2 separate regions of the Homo sapiens genome follow, and region 2 is linked to region 1. The links come from fine-mapping of genetic effects on gene expression. A gene starts in region 1. The other region holds a variant in brackets. All regions are shown on one strand. Distances are from middle to middle. Region 1 holds the start of BTBD3 (BTB domain containing 3). Region 2 has its middle 95 kb from the start of LINC00687.

Region 1 (2,927 bases):
ATAATTAGGTCAATAGGAGCTTACTTGTTTCTTCATGACTTTCTCTATGTGCTTTTTAAACTGGTTTCTAGATCCCTCTCTAACATTGTGTGTTAAAGTGTGTATGAAGATGATTTGGAGGTATCTGTATGTGTGTGTTCTGCTGTTGAGAACATGATAATCATAATAAATAAGCAGTGCTTCAGGATCCATCTAAAATGGAGACAGGTAACTGTGCTACAGGCCCTGGTTCTCTTACAGAGGCTTTGCAAATGGTTTTAAGAATAATAATAACAACAATAAAGAGGATATTTCTTGGTTCAATTTAGTGTTCTAGGGATTTAAAGACTGATTTCTGGTAACCGCCTTTAGCAGATTATTAATTATAACAATAACAATCGTAACTCTTATTTGCTGAGCCCTCACTGTGTCAGGTAGTCATTATTCAGACAAATGTTAAAACAAGGAGGGCTGTGGTCATGAAGGGTGCATTTGCCTGAGGGGTAGCAAATGGCTGCTGTGCTTTGAACAAATGAGCGTGATCCAAATAGATAGGGGTGAGATTAAATATTTTAATTAGTCCCTCTTTACAATAAATAAGCATATGCAGAACCTATTGCCGGTGTTTTTGTTTTTTTTACTCACCAACGCTAGAAATGGTTGGAGGATTCACACCTACAAAAATCAAATGGTAGCTTATATTCTTCTAATTCAAAGCAGAGAGAACCTGTTTGCATTTTAACTAGGTGGAATCCGAACATTTATCATTTTGAATAGCCTTGTTATTTGTTCTGTCTTAGAAGTTGTGGATTATATTCTTTAAAATTAAGACAAGACTAAATGTAGCCTTAACAGTTAAGTTGAATTTTGAGATCCTGAACATGGCCCCATCTGAAATATTTTTAGTGAATTACAGCCTTTGAACATTGATCATCAGATTTGTTTTTATTTGAATCTTATTTTTACTTCTAGAGTTTATCTTATGCTTTAGTGTACTTAGGTGTACGGGTATAATCTTAATCTAATTAACAGTATTTTGTGACCTGAGACACCTGTCAAAGACCATTATAGAAGCTAGAAAACATTGGGAGGTAAACTGAACACATGGCCTCAGTTCTCTTCTTTAGCACTAGACTATGACTTGCACTCAAAAGAGGCTAAGAAAAAGAAAAATAACGTCCTTTGCCTTTAAAGTGTAATAAATGTGTTTTGCTATTAATAGCCCTTTTCAGTTTATAGACTGGAGGATTTTGTTTTAAGTATTTGAAACTAAATGCTGCTGGGAAAAAGATTTTAGTAGAAATATAGATATCTGTCCCTACCCTTTGTTAATTGATCCTGCTTAACTGGGGACATAATGTATGTCTACTGAAGAGAAATCTGTGGGCATAAACTCCTCCCTTCCTGTTGTCAAATATATTTCATATGTTATTATCTTGTTTAAATATACAGTAGACAAGAAAATGCAACTGCTGTTCCTTTAATATCAGAACTATGCATGTTACAATAGGTGTCACTGTTTTGCTTGGTCCAATCATGATTGGTGACTTCAGCTATTGGCTCGGAGCACTGGCTGTCTGACTCCATCTGCAGGGCTGTAATACCTACTCTCCTCCGATCCATTCACCACACAACTTCAGCCGGCTGAACAGACTCACGCAGCTCCAGCCCATCTTGCTGACCTAATTCAGAAAAGAAGTGCTACAGCTCTGTGCCTGTCATCTTTGCAGTGTAGCATTTTCAGGTGATCTAGGAAACAGTTATTTTTATGAGCAAATAAGAGAAACAGGAATCATGATGGGGATATATTTAACAGACCCAGTACTGGATAAAACTTAAAGCCAGTTTCTATTCAACATAGTGAAAAGGTCACCTTGCCTGGCTGAGAAAAGCAGCAAAATATCAGCTTTGTTGGTTTCAGTTAACCTCTTAGCCCGGGCTAATCTCTTTTCCTTGATGTTCAAACCAATTTGGGATATCTAACTCTAAAGAGAGACACACTGTACTCATGGTAGATGACAAGGAAAAGAACATGAAATGTCTCACCTTCTTCTTGATGCTTCCAGAGACGGTAAAGAACAGGTCCAAGAAAAGCTCAAAGAAAGCAAATACCAGCAGCAGCAGTAGCAACAGCAGCAAGTTGCCACCAGTTTGTTATGAAATAATTACCTTGAAGACTAAAAAGAAGAAGATGGCTGCTGATATATTCCCCCGTAAAAAGCCAGCCAACTCCAGCAGCACCAGCGTCCAGCAGTACCACCAGCAGAATCTCAGTAACAACAACCTTATCCCGGCCCCAAACTGGCAGGGTCTTTATCCCACCATTAGAGAGAGGTAAGTGCCGCGCTAGTCTATTTACTTTAAAAGTTTTCCTGTGTTGAAGTTTCTGCTTTTGCAAAACCTGTAATGTATTTGAACACAAATCTGTTTCCTCTTTTCCCAGAAGCTTTTTATTGGTAATGGAAAATTGCCTTGTATCTTTTCCAAAACAGTACAGCTGTTTTCCTCTTAGATAAAAATGTTTTTGCAAGCTGTAACATTCAAGTGACAGGGTTGTCTATGGGCCATAGAAAATGGGAACCTTTTATTTGTCCTTAGCTTTATTAAAAGTTTGTATAACTTTTATTTTAAACTTTAGTTACTTCCCTTATGTTTGCAATGATTATGAACAGTTTAGTTAGAACCTTTATTTGTTGTTTTGCCTTGAAGTTACTGGACTGTTGCTTAGCTTGCAAGTCTTTTGTGGGTTTTGTATGTTGGGGAAGGGGATGTTAAAAATGCAGGCTGCTGTGAATTAATGAGTTGCCTCTGTTTATAGAAATGCGATGATGTTCAATAATGATTTGATGGCAGATGTACATTTTGTGGTTGGGCCACCAGGTGGGACTCAACGGTTGCCAGGACACAAAGTAAGCAACAGCTGCATGACCGGTTTAGTCCTGACGTTT
Region 2 (2,927 bases), 140 kb before region 1:
GGTCTTTAAAGAGGTAACTAAATTAAAATAAGTTTATTAAAGTCAGCTATCATCCAATATGACTGGTGTCCTCATAAGAAGAGGAGATCAGGACACAGACATGCACAGAGGAAACACCATGTGAAGGCCCAGGGACAAGACAGCCAACTACAAGACAAAAGAGAGGCCTCAGAAGAAACCACCCCTGTCAACACCTTGATTTCAGACTTCTAGCCTCCAGAACTGTGAGAAAGTTAATTTATGTTGTTAGAAGAAAGTACCAGTCTAAGGACTTTATTATAGAAGCCCCAGCAAACTAATACAGAAAGCAAAAAAAAAAAAAAAAAAAAATCAGTGGCTGCCAGCGTTGAGAGAGGGAGAGGGATAAATAAGATGAAAAGAGCAAGATTTTTTAGAGCAGTTGAAACTATTCTGTATGATACTATAATAGTGGATTCATGATATTATGCATTTGTCATACCCATGGAAATTAATAGCACAAAGACTGATATTTGATATGTGCAAATTTTAAATGATTATTTAGAAGATCCTGGAATTGCAGCAAAAGAGTACAGATTGTGACAACACAATATAACTTTATTACAAATGTATGAAACAAATTCAAACATTAGGGGTGGGGAAAATGGTGCTGACCTAAGTAACTTTGAAAATGTATAGAGCCTTTAAGGATAAAGGCAAGAGTGACTCTACAAGAGAACTGCACTCTAGTTGGTAAACTTGTTCCCTAAGGAGACACAGGTTAACAGTTCTGCCACTGCTATAATTTACCCTAAAATTGAATAACTAAAGTCAGTGAATGGCTGAGGTAGGTGCTCACAGATAAGCAAAGGGAGAAGGCTAACATGATCCCTATGGTAATAGACTAGAGTTGGAGACATCAATATGAACTCCTGTGTATATTTACTATCACCTGAAATTTAGATACAGATGGTTACATATAGAAATATTTACAGATATGTGTATATTCGATGTTTGGTATATGTGTATATACTTTATTGCTCTGTGAGCTGAGAGGGCCTATAGGAAAGGACACTACAGTAGTAACATTCATAGCTAGTGCACCCCCGCCCCCCCGCCCCTGCACCTATCTTATTTTGTAGTGCTAGAAAGTAAAGAAGTACAAAAACAAAAACGCCCCACAACAACAAAAGAAACAACTTCACACTGATAGGAGTTTGTCCGATGGCACCGCCGAAATAATTTTGGTAACAAAACAGGATTGGATTATACCCTGATACAGTTTGGGTGTTGCCCCTGTTCAAATTTCATGTCCAAATGCAATCATTAATATTGGAGTTGGGACCTGGTGGGAGGTGATTGGATCAAGGAGGCAGGTTTCTCATGAATGGTTTAGTACCATCCTCTTGGTACTGTCCTTTCGGTAGTGGGTTCTTACAAGATCTGGTCTTTTAGAAGTGTGTAGTACTCACTCCCCCTTCCTCCTGCCTTGGCCATGTAATGTGTCTGCTCCCCCTTCACCTTCCGCCATGATGGTAAGTTTTCTGAGGCCTCTTTAGAAGCCAATCAGATGCCAGCATCATGCTTCCTTCACAGCCTGCAGAACCGTGAGCCAATTAAATCTCTTTTCTTTATAAGTTACCTAGTCTCAGGTATTTCTCTGTAGCAATGTGAGAACAGAATACTATATACCTCAAAGTATAAAATAAATTGACATGAGTCTTTAACAATATTGTTTTTTATGAAAGAATAATCTTGCTGAAAAAGCTGATGAATACCACTTCAGCCTGGTGATCAAGGTCAATATCAGCAGTCATAAATCATGTTGATAGTATTATATGTA[C/T]CATTGTTATGCTGAAATTATCTTTCTCTGTGACCTTTTATTCCCCAAAACCCATAACCTCTGTCTAATCCTCAGAAAAACATTAGACAAACCTCAATGAAAGGCATCTTACAACATAGCTGACCAATATTCCTCAAACTGTCAAGGTCATCAAAAATAAGGAAGCCTGAGAAACTGTCACAGCCAAGAGGAGCCCGAGGAGATAAAACAACTGAATGTAATGTAGAATCCTGGGTGGGATCTTGAAACAGAAAAAGGACATTAAGCCAAAACTAAGGAAAGCTTGAATAAAGTATAGGCATTTCAGGGAATAAAAATGTATCAATATTGGTTCATTAATTTTAACAAATGCACTATACTATTTAAGGTATTAATAATAAGGTTAATTGTTTGGGTGAGAACTCTCTGTATTATCTACCCAATATTTCTGTAAAACTAAAATTAGTCTAATGAGTAAAATCTCTAAATTTTTTTTAAAAAGTCTGATGTGTATTCTCCAAAGAAAATATACAAATAGCCAATGAGTGCGTGGAAAGTTTCTCAACATCATTTAGGCATTAGGGAAATGCAAATCAAAAACCATGATGAGATACCACAGCACACCCAGTAGGATGACTGTAAACAAAAGATAAACAAAAACAAGTGTTGGTGAGGGTATAGAGAAAGCAGAGCCCTTGTGCACTGCTACGAGGAATCTAAAATGGTTCAGCCACTTTGGAAAGCAGCTTGATAGCTCCTCAAAATTTTAAACGTGAGTTACCATATGACTCAACAATTCCATTCCCAGGCATTTGCCCAAGAAATTGAAAAGATATATTCACAAACATATTTGTGTAAAAATGTTCATAGCAGCCTTATTTGTAATAGCCATAAAAGTGAAAACAACCCAATGTCTGTAAGTGAATAGAAAAATGCAATGTGGTGTATTCACTCATACAATGGAACATTATTCAGCCATAAAAAAGAAGAAAGTACTGATATATGCTGCAATATGGATGAATCTTGAAAGCATTATGCTAAGTGAAAGAAGCCAGATACAAAATGCCACATATTATGTGATCCTATTTATACAAAACATCCAGAATATGCAAACCCTCAAAGAAAGAAAGTAGATTAGTGATGGCTG

Evidence for each region.
Region 2: its variant is fine-mapped to the expression of BTBD3 in whole blood (INTERVAL, PIP 0.92).

The regions. Positions count from the first base shown.
Region 1 is chr20:11,916,289-11,919,215 of GRCh38, forward strand. BTBD3 (BTB domain containing 3) reads left to right here and starts at 1,605. Exons shown (of 4, transcript NM_014962.4): 1 at 1,605-2,313; 2 at 2,798-2,888. The coding sequence starts at 1,988. It overlaps BTBD3-AS1 (BTBD3 antisense RNA 1), which reads right to left and starts at 2,313. Exons shown (of 3, transcript NR_186407.1): 1 at 2,026-2,313.
Region 2 is chr20:11,774,304-11,777,230 of GRCh38, forward strand. No RefSeq gene overlaps it. Among named protein-coding and RNA genes, the nearest start is that of LINC00687, 95 kb to the right of the region's middle. The variant C/T (reference allele first, on the strand shown) is at 1,802.